Linked DNA regions of Homo sapiens. The protein of the gene in region 7 purifies or fractionates together with the protein of the main gene of each other region. This does not show direct contact. Each region holds a gene or a part of one and is shown on either strand. Other genes may lie near its edges. The genes, in order: MROH1, DSTYK, UCKL1, XPO6, TBCD, EXOC6 and NPTN.

Evidence for each region.
Region 1: the proteins of NPTN (region 7) and MROH1 purify together in Homo sapiens (co-immunoprecipitation; 2 studies listed by BioGRID and IntAct, with this or other methods). This does not show direct contact.
Region 2: the proteins of NPTN (region 7) and DSTYK purify together in Homo sapiens (co-immunoprecipitation; 2 studies listed by BioGRID and IntAct, with this or other methods). This does not show direct contact.
Region 3: the proteins of NPTN (region 7) and UCKL1 purify together in Homo sapiens (co-immunoprecipitation; 2 studies listed by BioGRID and IntAct, with this or other methods). This does not show direct contact.
Region 4: the proteins of NPTN (region 7) and XPO6 purify together in Homo sapiens (co-immunoprecipitation; 2 studies listed by BioGRID and IntAct, with this or other methods). This does not show direct contact.
Region 5: the proteins of NPTN (region 7) and TBCD purify together in Homo sapiens (co-immunoprecipitation; 2 studies listed by BioGRID and IntAct, with this or other methods). This does not show direct contact.
Region 6: the proteins of NPTN (region 7) and EXOC6 purify together in Homo sapiens (co-immunoprecipitation; 2 studies listed by BioGRID and IntAct, with this or other methods). This does not show direct contact.

Annotation. Positions count from the first base shown.
Region 1 is NC_000008.11:144,154,516-144,158,015, reverse strand, and holds part of MROH1 (maestro heat-like repeat-containing protein family member 1), read right to left. Parts: intron 1-3,500. UniProt on the Homo sapiens protein: Lysosome fission factor. Recruited to lysosomes by RAB7 (RAB7A or RAB7B) at scission sites and homooligomerizes to mediate the constriction and scission of lysosomal tubules. May sever membranes by inserting amphipathic helices into one bilayer leaflet.
Region 2 is NC_000001.11:205,205,203-205,208,702, forward strand, and holds part of DSTYK (dual serine/threonine and tyrosine protein kinase), read right to left. Parts: intron 1-3,500. UniProt on the Homo sapiens protein: Acts as a positive regulator of ERK phosphorylation downstream of fibroblast growth factor-receptor activation. Involved in the regulation of both caspase-dependent apoptosis and caspase-independent cell death.
Region 3 is NC_000020.11:63,939,417-63,942,916, forward strand, and holds the end of UCKL1 (uridine-cytidine kinase-like 1), read right to left. Parts: intron 3,311-3,500; exon of another isoform or gene 3,215-3,310; intron 3,077-3,214; coding exon of another isoform or gene 2,347-3,076; exon of another isoform or gene 1,793-2,346; coding exon 1,694-1,792; coding exon of another isoform or gene 1,628-1,693; coding exon 1,534-1,627; intron 1,441-1,533; coding exon 1,378-1,440; intron 1,301-1,377; coding exon 1,178-1,300; intron 1,070-1,177; coding exon 962-1,069; intron 891-961; coding exon 734-890; intron 640-733; coding exon 560-639; 3' UTR 413-559; downstream 1-412.
Region 4 is NC_000016.10:28,114,466-28,117,965, forward strand, and holds part of XPO6 (exportin-6), read right to left. Parts: intron 2,998-3,500; coding exon 2,853-2,997; intron 1-2,852. UniProt on the Homo sapiens protein: Mediates the nuclear export of actin and profilin-actin complexes in somatic cells.
Region 5 is NC_000017.11:82,758,565-82,762,064, forward strand, and holds part of TBCD (tubulin-specific chaperone D), read left to right. Parts: intron 1-3,500.
Region 6 is NC_000010.11:92,953,020-92,956,519, forward strand, and holds part of EXOC6 (exocyst complex component 6), read left to right. Parts: intron 1-1,610; coding exon 1,611-1,722; intron 1,723-2,560; coding exon 2,561-2,695; intron 2,696-3,500. UniProt on the Homo sapiens protein: Component of the exocyst complex involved in the docking of exocytic vesicles with fusion sites on the plasma membrane.
Region 7 is NC_000015.10:73,595,390-73,598,889, reverse strand, and holds part of NPTN (neuroplastin isoform b precursor), read left to right. Parts: intron 1-1,520; coding exon 1,521-1,868; intron 1,869-3,500. UniProt on the Homo sapiens protein: Probable homophilic and heterophilic cell adhesion molecule involved in long term potentiation at hippocampal excitatory synapses through activation of p38MAPK. May also regulate neurite outgrowth by activating the FGFR1 signaling pathway.

The DNA.
Region 1 (3,500 bases), on a different chromosome or scaffold from region 7:
ATCTCAAAAAAAAAAAAAAAAAAAAAGAAAGAAATAGATGGCCAGGCGCAGTGGCTCATGCCTGTAATCCCAGCACTTTGGGAGGCCAAGGCAGGTGGATCACTCAAGCTCAGGAGTTCAAGACCACCTGGGCAACATGGCAAAACCCCATCTCTACCAAAAGTACAAAAATCAGCTGGGCATGGTGGCACCCACCTGTAGTCCCAGCTACTCAGGAGGCTGAGGTGGAAGGACCACGTGAGCCTGGGAAACAGAGGTAGCAGTGAGCCAAGACTGCACCACTGCACTCCAGCCTGGGTGACAAAGCAACCCCTTCTCAAAAAAAAAAAAAAAAAAAAGAAAGAAAGAAAGAAAAAGAAATAGGCAAATCCCTTAAAAGACACAAGCTACAAGCTATCAAACCTCACTCACAAAGAGATAACCTAAATAGTCCCATATCTAAAAAGAAATCGAACTCATAGTAAAAAACCTTCCCATAAAACCTAGATGGTTTCCCTGGGGAATTCTACCAAACATGGAAGGAAGAAATAATACCAACTATACACAAATTCTTCCTGAAAAAATTAAAAAGAAAAGACTACTTCCCAACTAATTTTCTGAGCATTACTCTCATAACAAAACCAAAGACCTTGTAAGAAAGCTATACAGACTCACGCCTGTAATCCCAGCACTTTGGGAGGCCAAGGCGGGTGGATAACTTGAGGTCAGGAGTTTGAGACCAGCCTGGCCAACATGGTGAAGCCCTGTCTATACTAAAAATACAAAAATTAGCTGTACATGGTGGCTCAAGCCAGCACTTTGGGAGGCTGAGGCAGGCGGATCATAAGGTCAGGAGTTCGAGACCAGCCTGACCAACATGGTGAAACCCCTTCTCTACTAAAAATACAAAAAAATTAGCTGGACGTGGTGGCGCACGCCTGTAATCCCGGCTACTCAGGAGGCTGAGGCAGTAGAATCCCTTGAATGCGGGAGGCGGAGGTTGCAGTGAGCCGAGATCACGCCACTGCGCTCCAGCCTGGGCAACACAGTGAGACTCTGTCTAAAAATAATAATACTAATACAAAAATTAGCCAGGCGTGGTGGTGTGCGCCTGTAATCCCAGCTACTCAGGAGGCTGAGGCAAGAGAATTGCTTGAACCCAGGAAGCAGAGTTTGCAATGAGCCGAGATAGCACCATTGCACTCAAGCCTGGGGACAGAATGAGACTCTGTCTCAAGAAAAAAAAAAAAAAAAAAGAAATTAAACTACAAAGCAATATTCCTTATGGACACAGATGTGCAAATTCTTTTTTTTTTTTTTTTTTTTTTGAGACAGAGTCTTGCTCTGTCACCCAGGCTGGAGTGCAATGGTGCAATCTCGGCTCACTGCAACCTCTGCCTCCCACATTCAAGCGATTCTTCTGCCTCAGCCTCCTGAGTAGATGGGACTACAGGCACACACCATCACGCCTGGCTAATTTTTGTATTTTTTTAGGAGAGATGGTGTTTCACCATGTTGGCCAGGCTGGTCTCAAACCCCTGAGCTCAGGCAATCCGCCGGCCTCGGCCTCCCAAAGTGCTGGGATTATAGGTGTGAGCCACCGTGCCCAGCTGGTTTTAATATTTTTAAATTCAGCTGATATAATTCACATCACGATCATCTCAATAAATGCAGAAAAAGCATTTGTCACAATCCAACGTCCACTTATGATAAAAATTCTCAAGAAGAGAAGGGAACTACCTTAACTAGGAAGAGAAGGAAACCTGCTCAACTTTTTTTTTTTTTTTTTTTTTTTCTTTGAGACGGAGTTTCACTCTTGTTGCCCAGGCTGGAGTGCAATGGCGCAGTCTCGGCTCACCACAACCTCCACCTCCCGGGTTCAAGTGATTCTCCTGCCTCAGCCTCCAGAGTAGCTGGGATTACAGACATGCGCCCCACGCCCAGCTAATTTTGTATTTTTAGTACAGGCGGAGTTTCTCCATGTTGGTCAGGCTGGTTGCGAACTCCCAACCTCAGGTGATCCACCCGCCTCGGCCTCCCAACATGTTGGGATTACAGGCGTGAGCCACCGCGCCCGGCCTCAACTTGTTACTTAAGAAAAACTGGCCGGGTGCAGTGGCTCAGGCCTGTAATCCCAGCACTCCGGGAGGCTGAGGCAGATGGATCACTTGAGGTCACGAGTTCGAGACCAGTGTGGCCAACATGTTGAAACCCTGTCTCTACTAAAAATACAAAAATTAGCCTGAGTGGTGGTGGGCGCCTGTAGTCCCAGCTACTCAGGAGGCTGAGGCAGGAGAATCACTTGAACCCAGGAAGCAGGGGTTGCAGTGAGCTGAGATCGTGCATTCTGGCCTGGGTGACAAAGCAAGACTCCATCTCAAAAAAAAAAAAAAAAAAAGAAAAACACCTAAGAAAAACCTGTAATTAACATCATACAGTTGGTCCTTGAACAACACAAGTTTCAACTGCATGGGTTCACTTATACACAGTTTTGTGTCAATAAATATATTGGAAAACTTTTTGGAGATTTGTGACACGTTGGAAAAACTTATGGACAAACGTAGTCTAGAGATATCAAAAAAATTTAAGAAAATGTGAAATATGTCATGAATGCATAAAATATATGTAGACACTAGTCTATTTTATCATTTACTACCATGAAATATACACAAATCTGTTGTAAGAAGTTAAAATTTATCAAAATATATATGCACACTTACAGACCCTACATGCTGCCATCTGCAGTCAAGAAAAATCTAAACAAACATAAAGACGCAGTATTGAGAGGCCGGGTGCGGTGGCTCACACCTGTAATCCCAGCACTTTGGGAGGCTGAAGCAGGCGCATTAACTGAGGTCAGGAGTTCGAGACCAGCCTGACCAACATGGAGGAACCCTGTGTCTACTAAAAATACAAAATTAGGCCGGGCGTGGTGGCTCATGCCTGTAATCCCAGCACTTTAGGACGCCGAGGTGGGTGGATCACGAGGTCAGGAGTTCAAGACCAGCCTGGCTAGCATGGTGAAACCCCATCTCTGCTAAAAATACAAAAATTAGCCAGGCATGGTGGCGGGTGCCTGCAATCCCAGCTACTCGGGAGGCTGAGGCAGAGAATTGCTTGAACCCAGGAGGCAGAGGTTGCAGTGAGCTGAGATTGCACCACTGCGCTCCAGCCTGGGCCACAGAGCAAGCCATCTTAAAAAAAAGTAGCTGGGCGTGGTAGCGCATGCCTGTAATCCCAGCTACTTGGGAGGCTGAGGCAGAATTGCTTGAACCCAGGAGGCGGAGGTTGCAGTAAGCTGAGATCATGCCATTGTACACCAGCCTGGGTGACAAGAGTGAAACTCTGTCTCAAAAAAAAAAAAAAAAAAAGATGCAGTATTGAATCACAGCTACACAGAATTAAGTGTAGCACATACTGAACTACTGTGATAATTCCAAAGCACGTCTCATTGCTACTGCAGTGAGCTCAGGCAGTGAGTGTATCTGCTTAACACACCGTGGGACGCCATCACCCCCACA
Region 2 (3,500 bases), on a different chromosome or scaffold from region 7:
CAAACTACCACAGAGTACACCCATCCCAGTCTCAGCACTGCTGTCACTGTGCTCCACCTCACAATCCCAGCTTCTCCCCACCCCTAAGCCCCATAAAGATGACAGCTCTATAAAATGAAGCTCTAAAGAATCTCCTCTTTCCCAACTTTTCATCCCTTCCCCAAATGTCACTCTGCCACTTAAACTTACTTATCATACAAATTTCTAAGATGACCAAGGAAAATGCCTATTTATTTTATTTTATTATTATTATTTTTTTTTGAGACACAGTCTCACTCTATCACCCAAGCTGGAGTGCACTGGCATGATCTCAGCTCACTGCAATCTCTGCCTCCTGGGTTCCAGCGATTCTCCTGCCTCAGCCTCCTGAGCAGCTGGGATTATAGGCCCGCACCGCCATGCCCAGCTAATTTTTTGTATTTTAGTGGAGACGATGTTTCACCATGCTGGCAGGCTAGTCTCGAGCTCCTGACCTCAGGTGATCCACCTGCCTCAGCCTCCCAAAGTGCTGGAATTACATGAGTGAGCCACCGCGCCCAGCCGAAAATGCCTATTTTAAATAAGTACACTAGTGCTTTTCCCCTTCTTTTAAATGCTGGCACATTTAAAAGGTGTGACAAAAAGAAGGTGAAGAATGTTGGAGAAACATAGCTGTAAGCTCACCAAAGGCAAAGAGCTATAAAAAAAACCTGAGAATTATAACTCATATAAAATGCTTATAACCTCCCTTAGCATTCTGCTTTTTTATGTACGTGTTTTATGTGTTGCACACGTATATGGTTTAGATTAGATTATACCTTTCTAGAGGACCAAGTTCAGGTCTTCTTAGACCTTTTTAATCCATCATCAAACATAAATGATTATTGATGATAATTATAATTATTTTTTCTTTCTTAAAAGTATAGAAGGGAAAGACTGATCTTCACTGGCCTAAGGCCAAGGCCAATGTCTTTATTTGACTCTTTATCCCCCATACGCAGCACATTGCTCAGTACATACCAGGCACTCAGGTATTTATTGAATAATAGCTAATACTTACATAGCACCTTAGCAGGCACTGGTTTTTTTTGGTTTTTTTTTTAGTTTTTTGTTTTTGAGACAGAGTCTCGCTCTGTCGCCCAGGCTAGAGTGCAATGGTGCAATCTCGGCTCACCAAAACCTCCGCCTCCCGGGTTCAAGCGATTCTCCTGCCTCAGCCTCCTGAGTAGCTGGGATTACAGGCATGCACCACCATGCCCGGCTAATTTTGTATTTTTAGTAGACATGGGGTTTCTCCATGTTGGTCAGGCTGGTCTCAACCTCTTGACCTCAGGTGATCCACCCGCCTCAGCCTGCCAAAGTGTTGGGATTACAGGCGTGAGCCACCGCACCTGGCCTGTTCTTTTTTTTTTTTTTTTAAAGACAGAGTCTTGCTTTGTCGCCCAGGCTGGAGCACAGTGGGGCAATCTCGACTCACTGCAACCTCCGCCTCCCAGATTCAAGCGATTCTCCTGCCTCAGCCTCCTGAGTAGCTGGCATACAGGCACCTGCCACCCTGCCCGGCTAATTTTTGTATTTTTAGTAGAGATAGGGTCAGGCTGGTCTCAAACTCCTGACCTCAAGTGATCCGCCCTCCTTGGCCTCCCAAAGTGCTGGGATTACAGGCATGAGCCACCGCTCCCGGCCCAGGTCCTGTTCTAAACATGCACATAGATTCACTCCCAAGAACTCTAGAGATCAGTACTGTTATAATCCCTATTTCCAGATGAGGAAATAAAGGCACAGCACAGTTGTGATTTGTCCAAGATCATTTGGTTAGTAAGAGGTGAAACCAGGATTCAAAGAAGGCACCACAGACCACAGAACTCCAACAACACATATTTAAGTCACTCCAGTATCTTTTTTTTTTTTTTTTGAGACAGAGTCTTGCTGCGACACCCAGGCTGGAGTGCAATGGCTCGATCTCGACTCACTGCAACCTCCGCCTCCTGGGTTCAAGCGATTCTCCTGCCTCAGCCTCCCGAGTAGCTGGGGTTACAGGCACGCGCCATCATGCCTGGCTATTTTTTGTACTTTTAGTAGAGATGGGGTTTCACCACGTTGGCCAGGCTGGTCTCGAACTCCTGACCTTGAGTGATCCACCTGCCTCGGCCTCCCAAAGTGCTGGAATTACAGGCGTGAGCCGCCGCACCCGGCCCACTCCAATTTCTTAAAATTGAGAGGCTTATGACAAATTGCAACAGCTAGGAACTTTACTGGATAATAAAACAAGAAAAATACTTTCCCATGCCGGGCACAGTGGCTCATGCCTGTAATCCCAGCACTTTGGGAGGCCAAGGCAGGCAGATCGCTTGAGGTCAGGAGTTTGAGACCAGCCTGGCCAACACGGTAAAACCCTGTCTCTACTAAAAATACAAAAACAAAATTAGCTGGGCCTGGTGGCAGGCGCCTATAGTCCCAGCTACTCAGGACGCTGAAGCAGGAGAATCACGTGAACATGGGAGGTGAAGGTTGCAGTGAGCCAAGATCACGCCACTGCACTCCAGCCTGGGCAATACAGAGAGACTCTGTCTCAAAAAAAAAAAAAAAAAAAAAAAAAAAAAAAAAAAAAAGAAAAAAAATACTTTTCCCTCTGCTACTCTTAATACTCCACCCTGCCTTTCCTCAGAAGTGCTCAAAGCCTTTATTTATGTATTTATTTATTTATTTTTTGAGACAGAGTTTCGCTCTTCTTGCCCAGGCTGGAGTGCAATGGCGTGATTTCGGCTCACCACAACCTCCACCTCCCACATTCAAGTGATTCTCCTGCCTCAGCCTTCCCCAGCAGCTGGGATTACAGGCATGTGCCACCATGCCCAGCTAATTTTTTTGGATTTTTAATAGAGACGGGGTTTCTCCATGTTGGCCAGGCTGGTCTCCAACTCCCAACCTCAGGTGATCCACCCACCTCAGCCTCCCAAAGTGCTGGGATTACAGGTGTGAGCCACCGCACCCAGCCTTACTTTTTAAATTCTAAAATATCATGTACATTACATATTCTCTACACTGACCCCAGTGAATTCAGAACTATAAAATGTTAGAGGCAAATATTATTTTGGGGTCCTTTACTCTTTTGTGGGTGAAAGTGAGACAATAAAAATTTTTGGTATCATATGGCATTACAAATGGTATATAGACATGAAAATTGTTTTACTATTGTTACCATACTTATACTCCAATCATTTCAAATTTAGAGTTAATCCCTGGTCTTCTTTCAGTTGCTCAAATACCATACTACATCAACCTAGAGGCACAGTTCCATTCTGAAGTGATGCTTAAAACCTACAGGTTTGTTAGGGTAAGAATTGAGTGTTCCTTCAACACCCAAGTTCCTATTAATCAGAGACTAACATTCATAAAAGAAAGTTGAGGACTGGGTGTGGTGGCTGATTACTGTAATTCCAGCACTTTGGGAGGTTGAGTTGGAAGGATCGTTTGAGGCCATGAGTTTGAGACCAGCCTGGGCAACAAAGTGAGACCCC
Region 3 (3,500 bases), on a different chromosome or scaffold from region 7:
ACTTCCGCCCTGGTCTGCCTCCTGGCTTTGCTGCCTCCAGCGACTTGTCCTGACGGGAAGGACCCTCCCCCCCCCCAACTGTGGGGAGGACCCTGATGGTACAAATTTGTGGGTGGGGGCAAAACAGCCTGCCTCTTGTGAGACCCAGAGCACCAGGGGGCCCTGTCCCCTCCCTAGGTCCAGGCCAGGTGGCCACCAAGCTATGGGTTCTAGGGGCCCCATCTAGCAGAGCTAGGAGCTGCAGGGCCCAGTTCTACCCCTTCCTTCATCTGGCACAAGTGCAAGACTGGGAATGCTTGGTCCTGCAGGGGAGAAGGCAGGGCCCTCAGCTCCCTCCCTCCCTCCCCATGGGAGTCTCCACAAATGCATGCCTCAGCCAGGACACCTCTCCTGTGCTGTAACCAATCACACCTTCATTTTTCTAAAGCTTTATTTATTTTATAAAATGCATAGAATAAATTATACTAGTAACATTTTAAAAATTAACATCTTTGTATTCAGCAGTCCTGGGTCAGGAGGCAGGAGGAGGGTGGTGGGGACGGGATGGCTCACTGGGCAGCTAACCCGTGTAGGCCACTTCCTCCTCGTCACTGCCATCGGGGACCGCGTCTGTCCCAAAGTAGCGGTCGCCAAAGTTCCCTGGAAAAAGGGGGGGGGGGGTCCAGTGTGGTGGGGCCTCCCAGGGCCACCCACCCTGCCCTCATGTGCGGCTGAAGGGCCCGGGCAGCCTCACCAATGCCTGGGATGATGCGGAAAAGGTCATTGACCCGCTTGTCCACCGCCGTGGTGATGATTCTCACTCGCGGAAATGCATAGGCCACTGAGTGCACGCCCATCTCTGCCATGAGCAGCGACAGCAAAAAGATCTTGTCCTCAGGCACGTCGTGGTCCTACCGAGTGTATTGGGCAGGTAAATCCCACCTCTGCCTGAACCTGCCCCGCCTACCCAGGGCTCACTCACCAGGAGCACGCGCACTGCCATCATGGCCGCCGCGCCCGTGGACACGGTGCAGTCCATGAGGATCACGTGGTCATCGCTGATGTCCTTGGGCAGCCTCAGGTAGTGGAGCTGCGGGCAGCAGGGGTCAGGCTGCAGGTGGGGCTCCCTGCGTCCCCTTGCTGTGAGCTCCCTCTGCCCCCTACCCCCGGGCTCATCACCCCGGCTGCCCCCAGGCACCTCGGGCTCCCCGGTAAGCTGGTTGGTCTGGATGAGGATGGTGCCGATGCGCACGTCTTTGCACACAGCGCGCAGCGCGGGCTCCATGGTTTCACCGGCGCGCAGAATGGACACACCGGTGATCTGCGGGGAGGGGAGGCTAAGCGCCCACATCCCGCCCCAGCAGCCTGTCCCGCGCCCAGGTGTGCCCAGGCAGGTACCTGCTTCCCCGCATAGCACTTGCCCGCATAGTCCTGCCCCTGCGGGGTCTGTACGACGCAGTCCTGTGGGGTGCAGGGTGAGGACTCCGGTGAGCGCAGGGAGCTCGCACCGGCTCCAAGACCCACCCTCCACCTCGCGGGCTACGGGCTACGAACCTGAAAGGGCAGGAAGGAGAGCGCGTGCTCGATGAGCAGCCGCATCAGTCTCTTGGAGTAGAAGATGAACTCGTCGCGACTGGTCTCCTTGTCCCTGTGGGGCCAACAGTTGAGCGGGAGCACGCGCCCGGGGCCGCCCCGTCCCCAGGTGGGCCCTCACCTGATGATGGTGTGCATGCCCCGTACCTGCGGCGTGCTCTTCAGGACGCTCAGCGTCCGGGGCAGCGGGTGGCACTGGTGTGCCGAGGCCAGCGCAGCCCTGGGGACAAACCGATGGGGAACACTCAAGAAGGGGGTCTTTTCCCAGAGCCCTCCCTCCCCACAGGACGGCTGTGCGTCACTGTGAGGGGAACACACGGGCCAGGCACAGCACGAGGTGCAGAGCGGGCCTGACTTCTGCCTGGGGCTGAGCTGGGGGGAGACGTCGCCCTACCTGAGCTGTCAGGCAAAGGCGAAAGATGGCGGCGAACAACGGGGCAAGCTCACCATCAGGCAGAAAGCTAGCGGGGTAGGCTGTGAGGGCCCCTCCCAGTGCGGGACCCCTCCTGCGCTAAGAGGAAGCAGAAGTGGGCCGGGCACAGGGCGGGCTCACACGTGCTGATAGGTGTCATACCCCAGAATGGGTAGCTTGTCCCCAGCCTCTCCCCGGGGGAACTAAAGCTTTGTGGGGTCAGGCCCCGCCCTGGCTCCTCCCCGAGGTGGTGCGCGGCCCCTCAAGAGAGGGGGGTGGGGGGCAAAGCTGGCTCAGTGTCTCTTGGCTGTCCCGTCCCGCCCCGCTGCCCAAGCCTGGGGATGGCCGGGGCAGCAGCAGGTCTAGGAGCGGGCAGGAAAAGGGCGGGGTGGAGGCAAGAAAGAGGTGGGACAGGGAGGAGGCAAAGCCGGAAAGGGGCATGACAGGGGCAGGGAATGGGGCGGGGCAGGAAAGGGGGTGATGCAGGGGCAGGAAGAGGAAAGCGACAGGCCACAGAATTGGGTGTGGCAGGGGAAGGAAAGAGGCAGGGCACGGAATTGGGTGTGGCAGGGCAGAAAAGAGGCGTGACAGCGGCAGGGAAAGGGGCGGGGCCGGGAATGGGGTGTGGCAGGGCAGAAAAGAGGCGTGACAGCGGCAGGGAAAGGGGCGGGGCCGGGAATGGGGTGTGGCAGGGCAGAAAAGAGGCGTGACAGCGGCAGGGAAAGGGGCGGGGCCGGGAATGGGGTGTGGCAGGGCAGAAAAGAGGCGTGACAGCGGCAGGGAAAGGGGCGGGGCCGGGAATGGGGTGTGGCAGGGCAGAAAAGAGGCGTGACAGCGGCAGGGAAAGGGGCGGGGCCGGGAATGGGGTGTGGCAGGGCAGAAAAGAGGCGTGACAGCGGCAGGGAAAGGGGCGGGGCCGGAAATGGGGTGTGGCAGGGCAGAAAAGAGGCGTGACAGCGGCAGGGAAAGGGGCGGGGCAGGAGCAGGAAAGAGGGCCTAGCGGGAGCAGCGGGGCAAGGGGCTACGGGAAGGCGGGTCACACAGCAGCACCACGGAGCACACTGCTCACATATCCCAACGTAGCTTCCTCTGCTTGCCAGGTGAAGAGCATGTTCAGGGAGGGAACAAGGCAGGAAACGGGGGTTTACAGAGAGAAGGAAGAGAACAAAGAGAAGGCTGCTTAGTTGGGGAGCAGGGCGTTCCCCGCAGGCCTGAGGAGGAGTGTGGGCGGTCAGGCCCCCAGCCCTGCCTGACCCTCCCTCCTGCCCCCGACCAAGGCTTCCTGGGGCTGAAGGAAGTGAGTGCAGCCACAGGCCAACACTTCCTTGGCTGACCAGACGACGGAAAATGTGTCTGGCTGCGTTCAGGTGTTTTTCCAAGTTTGAAACCCTGGAAAGTTTTTCCTCTCAGAACAAAAGCTTCAGGAGGAACCTGACGGGACAAGACCTGCGGGTTCCTAGGCCGAGGAGAGGGCCAAGCGGAGACTCATGCAGGCACCGGAAGCTGGACGGCTGGT
Region 4 (3,500 bases), on a different chromosome or scaffold from region 7:
TGCATATGTTTTGTTTACACTATAGTCTATAAAGTGTGCAATAAGCATTATGTCTAAGAAAACAATGTACATATCTTAGTTAAAAAGTAGTTTATTGCTAAAAATGCTAACAATCATCTGAGCCTTCAGAGCGGTAATCTTTTTGCTGGTGAAGGGTCTTCCTTGAAAGTGACTGCTGCTGACTGAACAGGGTGGTGGTTGCTCAAAGTTGGGGTGGCTGTGGCAATTACTTAAAATAAGACAACAATGAAGTTTGCTGCATCGATTGACTTCCTTTCATGAAATATTTCTCTGGAGCATGCGGTGCCGTTTCATAGCATTTTGCCCACAGTAGAACTTCTTTCAAAGTTGGAGTCAGTCCTCTCAAACCCTGCTGCTGCTTCATCAACTGAGTTTATGTGTTATTCTAATCCTCTGTTATTTCAACAATGTTCACAGCATCTTCACCAGTTGATTCCATCTCAAAAACCCACTTTCTTTGGTCATTTACAAGAAGCAAGTCCCCATCTGTTCAAGCTTGATCCTGAGATTGCAGCAATTCCATCCCATCTTCAGACTCCGCCTCTAGTTCTCCTGTTATTTCCACATCTGCAGTTACTTTCTTTACTGAAGTCCTGAACCCCTTAAAGTCATCTATGAGGCTGGGAACCAACTTCTTCCAAACTCCCATTAATGCTGATATTTTGATCTGCTTCCATGAATCATGAATGTCTTTAATGGCATCTAGAATGGTGAATCCTTCCCAGAAGGTTTTCAGTTTATTTGCCCAGATCCACTGGAGGAACCACCATCTATGGCAGCTATAGTCTTATGAAACGTATTTCTGAAACAGTAAGACTTGAAAGCCAAAATTACCCCTTGACCCATGGGCTACAGAACTACAGAATGGATGTTGTGTGAGCAGCCATGGAAACTATGGAAACTAATATCTTTGAACATCTCCATCTGAGTCCTTAGGTAACCAGGTGCATTGCCAATCAGCAGATTTTGAAAGGAATCTTTTTTTCTGAGCAGGTCTCCATAATGAGCTTAAAATATTCAGTAAACCATGATGTAAACAGATGTGCTGTCATTCAGGCTTTGTTGTTCCATTTATAGAGACAGGCAAAGTAGATTCAGCATAATTCCTAAGGGCCCTAGGATTTTCAGAATGATACATGAGCACTGGCTTCAACCTGAAGTCTCCAGTTGCAGTTGCCCCCTGACAAGAGAGTTGGCCTGTCCTCTGAAGCCAGGCACTGACTCCTCCTCTCTGGCTATCCAAGTCCCAGATGGCACCTTCTTCCAGTATAAAGCTGTCTCATCTACACAGAAAATCTGTTGTTTAGTATGGCCACCTTCAGCAGTGATCTAGAACTTCTGGAGAACTTGCTGCAGCTTCTCCATCAGCACTTGCTGCTTCATCCTGGAGATGGCTTCTTTCCTTAAACCTCATGAACCAACCTGTGTTAGCTTCCAACTCTTCTTCTGTAGCTTCCTCACCTCTCTCAGCCTTCACAGAATTGAAGGGCCTGATCTGGATTTGGCTTTGGCTTAAGGGAATGTTGTGGCTAGCTTGGTCTATCCAAACCACTGAAACCTTCCTCATATCAACAACAAGGCTGTTGTACTTTCTCATCACTCATGTGTTCACTGAAGCAGAAATTTTAATCTCCTCCAAGAACTTTTCCTTTGCATTCACAACTTGGCTGTTTGGCTCAAGAGCCTTTGGCCAGGCCGGGCGCGGTGGCTCACGCCCGTAATCCCAGCACTTTGGGAGGCCAAGGCGGGCAGATCATGAGGTCAGGAGATCAAGACCATCCTGGCTAACATGGTGAAACCCCGTCTCTACAAAAAATACAAAAAAATTAGCCAGGCAAGGCGGCAGGCGCCAGTAGTCCCAGCTACTCAAGAGGCTGAGGCAGGAGAATGGCGTGAACCCGGGAGACGGAGCTTGCAGTGAGCCAAGATCACGCCACTGCACTCCAGCCCGGGCGACAGAGCGAGACTCCATCTCAACAACAACAAAAACGACAAAAAAAAAAAAAAAAGAGCCTTTGGCCTATCCTGGCTTTTGACACGCCTTCCTCACTAAGCTTAATCATTTCTAGATTTTTATTTAAAGTAAGAGACATGTGACTCTTCCTTTCACTCGAACACGTAAAGGTCATTGTAGGGTTATTAAATGGCTCAGGGAATAGGGAGGCCTAAAGACAGGAAGATGGGGAAGCCTCCAATCAGTGGAGCAGTCAGAACACACACATTTATCAATCAAGTTTGCAGTCTTTGGTTTGTGGCACTCCAAAATAATTACAATAGTAACATTAAAGATCACTGATCACAAATCGCTGTAAGATATAGTAACAAAAAAGTCTGAAATATTCTAACAATTACCAAAATGTAACACATGGAAGCACCAAATACTGTCAAAAAAATGGTGCTGACAGATTTGCTTGATGCAGGGTTGCCATAAGCCTTCAACTTGTAAAAAACACAGTCTCTGTGAAGCGCAATAAAGGGAAGTGCAATAAAATGAGGTGTGCCTGCACAACCACTGCCCAACTGTGCTTACCGCGCGAAGGAAAATGTTTCAGAGGTATCACAACTTTTTAGTCTGGAAATCTGAATGATATTTTACTTTTTCACAGTGAGCATGTATTCATGTGGAACTCAGATAACTAAAAAAGTAAAGTTGTATCTGAATGCATGTAGGCTACAACTAAAAAGGAACATGAAATAAAACAGATGTATAACAGCAGAAAGATTTATGGGTCTAACTCTGTGTCATATTTAGATTTTCTAGTAAATGGGTATAGGAACAGAAGGAGAGACAGAGAGTTAGATAAAAGGTGTAGGCTTTGCTGTTTCGAGACCTTGGTGCTGATTAGAGGTGTGATTGCATCCATGGTAGTAGAGATGAGTGTCACGAACTGCTGCGTGTTCTGCCGGTGAACTTCACTGCAATACTGTGCTAACCAGTGAGAGTAAGCCTGCAGCGCAGCCAGGGACTGAGCATGCCTGCAGAAAGAAAAGAAGATGTGATTTTAAAGGTTAAGGTGAAAATATATTAGCGTTCAACTCATTTTCATAGGAGGTAAGAATTGCATCCACTGCATTTGCTGTTCTAAGACATGGGCAACAGCATAGAAATCATTTACCGGTTCACGTAGAACCTAAAAACTAAGATATTCATCATCTAAACATTGCCACCGCTGACTAGAGCACAGAAGGCAGTTAGTCAATGTCTACTGAATCTTATTCAATCTTTCTGTGACACATGCTCACCTAAGAGAAAGGTAAATTATAAAAGCAAAATCAAAGAACTTAAGTGATCATGTGTTGACTTCAGAACTAGTACAAATTTAACATTCCTAGCTGCAGACTAAAGCGTAGACAACTACCAGGTGTGACAGCTTTATAAACAGAGCTTTGATGTCAGATTTTGGAGTTTAAGCTTCCACTGCACCACACATTCCACCTGGCTAGGGAATAACTGAGGCGGCAAAGACTATGTTTGGTTT
Region 5 (3,500 bases), on a different chromosome or scaffold from region 7:
TGGAATTCCTTTTTAGAAAAAGGAAAATGTAGTCGTGGGATGCTGGTCCTTTGTCATTTGTTGCACATTTTTCCACCCTTTTGCTTTTTTTTTTTTCTTTTTTTTTTTTTTTTTTGAGATGTAGTCTCTCTGTTGCCCAGGCTGGAGTATAGTGGCCCAATCTTGGCTCACTGCAACTTCTGCCTCCAGGGTTCAAGCGATTCTCCTGCCTCAGCCTCCAGCGTAGCTGGGATTACAGGCGTGTGCTACCACGCCTGGCTAATTTTTTGCATTTTTAGTAGAGACAGGGTTTCACCATGTTGGCCAGGCTGGTCTCAAACTCCTGACCCCCACGTGATCTGCCCACCTTGGTCTCCCAAAGTGCTGGGATTACAGGTGTGAGCCATTGTGCCCGGCCTGCTTTTGCCTTTTAATATTGTGTCTGGTGTATTTTATCTACTGAAGTTTTTTCGTGTTTGTTTTTTTAAAGAGATGGGATCTCGCTCTGTCACCCAGGCTGGAGTGTAGTGGCGCAGTCATAGCTCACTGCAGCCTTGAGCTCCTGGGATTAAGTGATCTTCTCACTTCAGCCTCCTGCAGAGCTGGGACAACAGGCACAAGCTGCCATGCCTAGTTAATTAAAAAACTTTTTTTTTTGGCCAGGCGCAGTAGCTCATGCCTCTGATCCTAGCACTTTGGGAGGCCGAGGCGGGTGGATTACAAGGTCAGGAGTTCAAGACCAGCCTGACCAACATGGTGAAACCCTGTCTCTACTAAAAATACAAAAATTAGCTGGGCATGGTGAAGCATGCCTGTAATCCCAGCTACTTGAGAGGCCGAGGCAGGAGAATTGCTTGAACTGGGACCCAGGACGCGGAGGTAGCAGTGAACGAGATCGTGCCACTGCACTCCAGCGTGGGCTACAGAGCCAGACTGTCTCAAAAAAAAAAAAATTTTGTTTTTGCAGGGTCAGGGTCACGCTGTGTTCCTCAGGCTGGTCTCGAACTTCTGGCCCCAAGCAATCCTGCCTTGGCCTCCCACAGTGCTGGGATGACAGGTGTGAGCCACTGCACCCAGTCTCTACTGAAGTTTTAGAAATATTTAGCTTGTCAAACTATCAGTTTCTTTGTGTTTGGCCTTTGGTAGTACGGTTAGAAAGTTTATTTTTCCTAATCAGTTATGTAAGCCTCATTTATTGGATGATTTAGTGGCCTCTCCCCTACTTGAAATGCCATTTTAAATCTATATTAAATATTCAAATATATTAGCCTTTGCTTTTAGATTTTTTATCCTGTTCCATTGACCTATCTGTATGCTCTTTTTTCTGGGTCATTTCGTTTGTTTGTTTTTTTTTTTTTTTTGAGATGGAGTCTCGCTCTGTCACCCAGGCTGGAGTGCAGTGGCGTGTTCTTGGCTTACTGCAACCTCCGCCTCCCAGGTTCAAGAGATTCTCCTGCCTCAGCCTCCCGAGTAGCATGTGCCACCACGCCTGGCTAATTTTTGTATTTTTAGTAGAGAACGGTTTTCATCATGTTGGCCAGGATAGTCTCGAACTCCTGACCTCAAGCAGTCTGCCCGCCTTGGCCTCCCAAAGTGCTGGAATTAGAGGCGTGAGCCACCACGCCTGGCCTGGGTCATTTTGTTTGATGTTAGTTTATATTTTGCCTGGCATCCTTTCCTCTTATTTTCTTGATGGTTTTGTAGCCCGTTCATTAATGCGGATGAACTCCGGAATTATTTTATCACTCTCCACCCTTTGGAATTCTATTAAATTCACAAATTCATGTAGGGGAGAAGTCTTTCTAAGATTTAATTTTCATGTCTAAGATCATGGTATTATGTCTCTAATTATTCACATCTTTTGTGTTCCTCAGTGAAGGTTGGTGATTTTCTTTAGATGATTCCTGGAGACTTTTTTTTAGGTTTATTTCTAGGTATGTTTTGTCTTTTATTGCTCTTGTGAAACTATTTGTTATGTGTTCTAACTAGTTATTGCTGATGTCTAGTGAAGATATGTTTTGTATACTGTTTTTGTAAATGGCAACACTGTAATGGAATATGTATGTGTAAACATACATTTCTTAACATCTTTATAGGGATATAATTACATACTATAGAGTTCACTCTTCTAAATATACATTTTAGTGTTAGTGTATTAGTGTATTACAGAGTTGTGTAACTATCACTACCACAATCTAGGCATTTTCATCATCTGAAGCAACCCAACTCCCATCAACAATTCCTTCCCATTCTCTGCTTCCGCAGTAACCACTCATCTGGCTCTGGGTTTGTGTGTATTCAGCATTTTGTGTGATGGAATCATGCAGTAGGAGGTCTTTTGGCACTGGCTTTTTTCACTTAGCATCATGTCTATGAGGTTCACTGTGTGATGAAATGTTTACTTCAATAGTTTTTCAGTCTTTTTTTTTTTTTGGAGACAAAGTCTTGCTCTGTCACCCAGGCTGGAGTGTAATGGCGTGATCTTGGCTCACTGCAACCTCCTTCTCCTGGGTTCAAGCGATTCTCCTGCCTCAGCCTCCTGAGTAGCTGGGATTACAGGCGCCACCTGTAAAATTAGCCTGGCCAATTTTTGTATTCTGAGTAGAGACAGGGTTTCACCATGATGGCCAGGCTTGTCTTGAACTCCTGACCTCAGGTGATCCACCTGCCTCGGCCTCCCAAAGTGCTGGGATTACAGGCGTGAGCCACCGTGCCCGGCCAGTTGTTTCTTCTGGGTTTTCTTAGCAGGTAAATATTATATGGTTTGTAAATAATGCTACTCTTTATCCACGATTATAAATTTTTATTCTTAGAACATTTTATTGAGTTTTAATTTTATTGAGTTTAAAATTTACCTACTATAAAATGCACCCATTTTAGTAAGATGTTTGAGTTTCGGTAAATGTATACACCCCGCGCTATCAAGATATGGAACATTTCTGTCATCCCAAGGAGTTACTTGATGTCCTTTTGCTGTCAGTCCCCTCACCCCAGCCCTAGGGAACCACTGTTGGTTAATGGTACTGTTCATTAGTTTTGCCTGTTCTAGAATCATTCAGTATGTGCTCTTTTTGTCTTCCGTTGTTAAAATAACATCTCCGGGACTTACCATTGTTGGTGTGTGTATCAGTAGTTTGTACGTTTTCTCTCGTGCTGATAAATCACAATTTGTTTCTTCTTTTTTTTTTTTGAGATGGAGTCTTGGTCTGTTGCCCAGGCTGGAGTGCGGTGGAGTGCAGTGGTGCGATCTCGGCTCACTGCAAGCTCTGCCACCCGGGTTCACGCCATTCTCCTGCCTCAGCCTCCCGAGTAGCTGGGACTACGGGTGCCCGCCAACACACCCAGCTAATTTTTTTTTTATTTTTAGTAGAGACGGGGTTTCACCTTGTTAACCAGGATGGTCTCGATCTCCTGACCTCGTGATCCGCCCGCCTCAGCCTTCCAAAGTGCTGGGGTTGTTTCTTCTTTTATCTGTTGATGGACATTTGAGTTGTTTCCGGTTTTTGGCTGTTATTAATAAT
Region 6 (3,500 bases), on a different chromosome or scaffold from region 7:
CCAATAATGGGACTGCTGGGTTGAATGGTAGTTCTTTGTGTTTGTTTTTGTTTTTGCTTTTGTTTTTATTTTGTTTTGAGACAGGAACTCACTCTGTTGCCCAGGCTGGAATGAAGTGGCACAATTATGGCTCACTGCAGCCTCGATCTCCTGGGCTCAAGTGATCCTTCCACCTCAGCCTCCCAAGTAGCTGGAACCACAGGTTCGCGCCACTGCTCTTTGCCAATTTTTGTATTTTTAGTGGAGATGAGGTTGTGCCATGTTGGTCAGGCTGGTTTTGAACTCTTGGCCTCAAGCAATCCACCCACCTCAGCCTCCCAAAGTGCTGAGATTACAGGCACAATCCACTGCGCCTGGCCCACAGATTTTTAAAAGTAGTATTTTAATAAAAAGTAAAAGGATGCAAAAATGTTAGCCTGTATCTAAGGCAGTAGTTCTCAACTGGGGATAATTTTGGTTCTCCTGCCACCACCTCCTCCCCACAAATTTGGCAATGTCTAGAAACATCTTTGGTTGTTACAGTTCAGGGGAGAGGTGCTACTTGAAACTAGTGGATAGAGGCCAAACATCCAAATGTGCAGGACAGTCTCCACGACAAAGAATTATCCACCCTAAAATGTCAATAGTGCCGAGATGGATAATCCATGGTCTACAGACAGTTTAACTGTTGTGATAATGAGGCTGTATCCAAGAAATCATTATTTACTTAAATTGAAGACCGAATGGTTAGGAGAAGAGAATTTGTTTTTTAGTGCTAGCTTAGTAATACTTAGGATGTTAAGAAACATCATATTAAAATTAGTTTAAGGTAATTTATTTCTTTGAAGACTTAAAAAATCAATGAAAATGGATAACTTAGTTATATTAAAAATTAAATTTGTTTATTATATCTAGAAAGAGCTCATATCAGTTTGTATTTTAAAAATAATTTTTAGCTATAGTTGTGTATGAAGTTTCTTTCAAAGTGACTGTCTTTTGGGGCTGGGCGCGGTGCCTGACGTCTGTAATCCCAGCACTTTGGGAGGCCAAGGTGGGAGAATTACTTGAGTCCAGGAGTTTGAGACCAGCCTGGGCAACATAGTGCAACCCTGTTTCTATAAAATATTTGAAACTAGCTGGGCATGGTGGCATGCATCTGTAGTCCCAGCTACTCAGAATGTTGAAGTGTGAGAATTGCTTGGGTCCAGGACTTTGGGGCTACAGTGAGCTATAATTGCACCACTGTACTCCAGCCTGGGTGACAAAGTGAGACCCTGGCTCAAAAACAATAATAAAAATAATAAAACAACAAAGTTACTATCCCATGATGGAGTCGGAATTTAGGAATAATTTTGTTTCCTTATACCAAGTCCTCTATGATTTTTCTGTGGTTGTTAATTGGATAAATTTAAATTATGCCATATATGAATATTCTACTTTATGGAAAATGTCCCTTTTGCAAAGTTAAATTGAAGTTTGTGATTTAATAAATATGGGTCTTTGTAGTTTATTTAAAGATATAAAATAATGATGGGGAAAATTATTTTAGTAAACTGTGTTAAATTATTTAGGATGTTAACTAACCACATTCATTATTTATTAAGTTTAATAATATCAATCTTTGTTTTTAGCTCAACAGAAATAGACGATATGCTTAGAAAATCAACAAATCTGCTGCTGACCAGAACTTTGAGTAGCTGTTTACTGAACCTTATTAGAAAACCTCATATAGGTTTGACAGAGGTAGGTTAAAAAGACACATATAGTGAAATGTTTCATTGTATGAAACAATTATTTTAAATTATTGCTGAACGTCATTCTGTAAAACTAGCTTCCTGTTTTAAATGTATTAATATAAGCAGATTTGTTTTCAAAATAAAAACACCAGTGTAAATTCCAGAAATGTGAGGATCCCAGGCACAGTGGCTCATACCTCTAATCCGAGAGCTTTGGGAGGCCAAGGCAGGAGGATTGTTTGAGGTCAGGAGTTTGAGACCAGCCTGGGCAATATAGTGAGACCCTGTTTCTACAAAAAATGAAGACTATTAGCCAGGCGTGGTAGTGTGCAACTATATTCCTAGCTACTCTGGACTTGAGCCCAGGAGGTTGAGGCTGCAGTGAGTTACAATCATACCACTGCACTACACAGCCTGGGTGACAGCAAGACCCTGTCTCTGGAAGAAAAAATAAAAAAATGAGGGAAAAGGGTTCATATGGGGAATAGTAGATAAAGATGTTAGAATATCTATTTAGATTTCTGATTGCCAGACTACAGGAAAAGTCACAATCCTAATTTTTTACTTGCTAAATGTTTAAGATTTGAAACATACTATGAAAAGTTATTTTAAAATAACTGGTATTTAGACTCTTGGTGTGTGTGTGTGTGTGTGTATATATATATATATATAAATTCATACGCAGTATTTGCAACAGGCTTTTAAAATCAGATAGTTGTATCCTATAATGCTGCAATTATGTAGAAATGGTACAGTTGCTGGAAGTAATAATCCCATTTTTAAAAATTAGGTGATTTTACATACATGTAACCTGTATTTTACTAGATATATCTTGTGTTTTCTAGCTGGTACAAATCATCATAAACACAACACACCTGGAGCAAGCTTGTAAATATCTTGAGGACTTTATAACTAACATTACAAATATTTCCCAAGAAACTGTTCATACTACAAGACTTTATGGACTTTCTACTTTCAAGGTATGTAAAAATTTGACCAAAAGTTTTCATTTCAGTCACTGTAAGCAGACGTTAAGAAATTAAAGACCGTTCTTATATATGCAAGATCTACTATATTCCTAAAAATTAAGAATAGAGGTATTCATTGTCAACAATGAGCAAGTAAATGTCAGTTTCTTTTTGGCACTGTAAACATCTTATTAACATGGAGAAAAGTATACTTATTTTCTACAGTGTATTATGCTTTGTTCATGTTTTGATGATTTATAGTAGTGCTGACTAGGTCTAACTGAATTAATATTTCACAGTTTAAAAATTAATTCTATATGAGTGTTTATTTTTGAAAATTTAAAATGTAAGACAAATTAAAAAAGGATAGATTTGTTTTCCATCCTTGATTGGTTCTGATCTGAAGAAAAATAAATATTATTACATGTCATTGAAGTCCTACCTCTTTTGCGGGTGGAAAGATTTCTGTTTGAATAATATACAGAATATACTGAGGATTAATTAATGGTTGTTTTAGGTAGAATGTAAGATTAAACAATTTCATAAGGTATTTTATTATTTGGAGTCATAGATGAGACACTGGCTTAGTCTAGTGTGTATAAATCCCCTTGAATTGAATATTTTATTAAACTAATGATAAACCATGTACTGATCACTTATCTGTAAAATGGGCTTGCTAATTTAACCTTACAGCTCTTTCTAAAAGTTTCCTATTAAAAAGAATTCTCTTTAACTACTTTTGTTATATTATCAATCACCCCCAAGATTTTATTGTAGTAACTTGCATTGTAAAAAATGAATGTACTTGTGTTTTAAA
Region 7 (3,500 bases):
GGCAAATACTGCTATGGATGTAAACAGGAATTTTTCCACTTAGTAACCTCCATTTTCAGCTAGCCCTGTTAACATCCTTGGCTTCTGGACTGTAGGAAAACAGTTCCATTTATTTCATCCTTTCCTCTGGAATGTTCTTAATTTGATGTTGGCAGATCCTGACCTCACTCCCTGCTTACTGCACAGGGGCTGGCTTGGCTTATGCAGCAGGCCTCCCAGGGGACGTTTCCAAGCCAATCAGAATGCCCTCTTTTAGTGTCTCTCTTTATACCTTCGGATACTGTCTGAATCAGTAGAAATGCTGAATGAACCCTAGGTGGGGTGGAAGGGTAAGAGAGAGTATGCTTGCACTCTGATTTTGTTTCCTATGGACCTAACTCCAAGTTTTTAAACTAAGCCTGGATTTTTTTTTTTTTTAACTCTTTCTGCCATTTCCACCTTGTCTTATGGAAGTGTAACCTCAAGCAAATTATGGGCAATTAGAGGTAGGCATCAACTTTAGTTCCTGGGCAGTTCCTAAGAGTGTTGGTTGAGGCCTGGCTTTCACCCTAGTGTTTAGTTTAATTCATCAGGGTACATTTCTCATTCTTCTGAGCTGGCTTCTAGAAGCCAGGCAATTCAACTGTATGGAGCCTGTCAAATACCATAGCTTTTCAGATTTTTCTAGGTAATGGATCTATGGGGTTATGGAGGGCACAGTCCCTCCATTAGCTGGCAGTGAGTTGGGTTGCTGGTATTGTTGGTCCCACTTCTGAGCTGACCCACAAAGTATTAATATCTCACTGTGGTGTGAAGTACAGACTGTCTTGTTCTCCTGAGGGTCTGCATTCAGGAAGAGGCTGCCTAACGCTAAACAACTGGGTTGTTTGTTTGCCATAGGCCCAGGGAAGAATAGGAGGTGGAGAAAGTCTAATCGAACCCAGGATAGAATCCTGTGTGAGAGAGAAATTTGCTACTCTTTCAGTTGAAATTTGAACTCTGAATCCCAAGAGAAGGCACCAGTAGGTCATTTAATACTTCTTGTTGAGGCTTGCAAAAGACACTGCATTTCTAACAAAGCGTTTGCCCATCCAAAAGAGAGATCCTGATTTGGCATATAAAACTACTGCCTCTTCTGGTTATCTTTCATCACTTGCCTGAGTTTAAAAAGGTAATAAATGGTTTGTGTTCTAAGGAAAGAGGCTCTTCCCAAGACCTGAGGCTTTCTCATTCCTACCAGCTGGGCCCATTGCTAAAATGCTTTCCAGTGGGCTTGCTTCTGCCTGGCCAGCACCTGGGCTGCCCCAGCTTGTAATTAGCCTGCCTTTGCTTCATAAGCTTCCCAGGGTGTGGTTCTTCTTCTAAAAGCTTGTATGAATTGCTGTACTGTCTCTTTATAGTTTAAAAATGAATCCTTTTTTGTTCTTTGCAACTCATTTGCTTTTTTCTTTTCTTTTCTTTAAATTACTATTAACACCTGTTGATTCTTTTTTTTTTTTCTGATTGGCCTGTCACTGCATTCCTGCTCCCCCTCCCTCTAGCTGGGTTTGTCAAGTCGCCCATGTCAGAAACTAAGCTCACGGGGGACGCCTTTGAGCTGTACTGTGACGTGGTCGGGAGCCCCACGCCAGAGATCCAGTGGTGGTACGCAGAAGTCAACCGGGCAGAGTCTTTCAGACAGCTGTGGGACGGTGCTCGGAAGCGCCGTGTCACCGTAAACACCGCCTACGGGTCAAACGGCGTGAGTGTGCTGAGAATAACCCGGCTCACCTTGGAGGACTCTGGGACTTACGAGTGCAGGGCCAGCAACGACCCCAAGAGGAATGACTTGAGGCAAAACCCCTCCATAACATGGATTCGAGCCCAGGCCACCATAAGCGTCCTTCAGAGTGAGTCCAGCACCCTACAGTAGTAGTACTGTAGTCATTAGAGGTGGCCCAATGACCCTTCCCTTCTGCATCCTTTCCCTCTTCCCCAGTATGATCACTCACCCCACCCCTTGTCTTCGTTTTTTTTTCAATCCCATGACCCTTCTGGTTGTAGTGTATGAAAACATCTGTGGCAACTTTTTTTCTTCTTTTCTTTGCCGTTCTCTCTGCCTCCCTTATCCCCCAACCCTTCTCTGTGTCTTTCTTCTCAGGAACAAAGAACTTGAGGAAATCCGTGACTGTCCAAAATCATCTGTGTTGGGAAGAGTTGGGGAGGGAGAACTGGGAAGCTTAAATTAAAACTCATAAAACCAGGCAGTCCAAGGAGGGTAGTGTTGAAATGGTTTTCCCTCCCCTTTGATTTTGTAGTAGGTTTCCTGCTATACTTTTGCTGATTTCTTCTCTGGTGCCTTTCTATTTTTGTTTCTCTCCCCAGTCTAACTACTTTTTATTTCTTCTGTTCTTCTGTTTGAAGCTCTCTAAGTAGCTGCCTTCACCTCTATGGTTTTAAGTTTGTGTCTGCCCAGCCTCTTCCTTTAACTGTGACTTGGTGTCATCTTGTTGTGATGGGAATGTTGCCATGGGTGCAGTGTGGTGGTGTGTTTTGGTTGTTGGGTGGCATGTAAGCTTGGATATTTTCATAGTTCCAGCTCTTTTTCTTTTCTAAAACCGTGGCATGTGCTTCTCTGATAACAGCCCTCTACTGCAGCAGTGTACTCCTCACTGGGCCTGCTAATTAGTCTCCTCTTTAAAAGCAGCAGCCTGGGACTTCCTTCTTATGTTTTGCTGTTAGGAGCCAGGTGACACTAAGCTGCAAATTATTATTTTTTTAGCCCATCACACTGTTTGGAAGTCAGAGTTGCAGTTGATTCCTGTTCACGGTTTGACTCTGATGAGTAGCTGTTGGCACAGTGTACCTTATCCCAGAGCATGGGAACTCCAGACATAGTGTGGGGACCACTCACACTGGCCTTTTCTTTGTGTCTTGAAAAAAGAGGAAACTAACTTCCAACCTGGTTTCTCATAGTGATGGGGTGAGCTGACCAGCTGGCTCAGAATCCTCTCCTTGTAGCAGGTATGCGTGAGACATATGACACCGGGACTTTTGTGGCCACTTCTCTCTCTTTCTTGAAAGTGACTTGCTACCTTATGTTGAGAAGCAGAGAGAGGGAGAAGCCACCACAGAACCAACGTTCCTGGCCAAGAAGAGTTCTGGCCCCACATCAAACCTGGTTATAATTGAGGGGACATTCACTTTTGGAAAGATCCTCTGGGTTTTTCACCTTCTCTTTGAGGACACAATGAGAGATCTATAGCCAGTTCCAGCTTAAAGAGCTGATTGATCTAGAGAAAGTAAGAATAGTAAAATCTTACTTTGATGAGGAATTTGGTAATAACATAAAGTAGTAAGACATGGGCCTTGAGTCTATATACTTAGATGGAAAATAGCAAATTAGTGTCTGTTCTTTGTAGCCACTTGAAGATCCTATGGGTAAAAAAAGAGTCCTTTGTAGGGCAGTGGTAGGAGAGGCTGCTGCAGTTGGCACTGTTGAATCAAAGAACCTGCTTCTGGAAAGAGGAAAAGAAAACCTT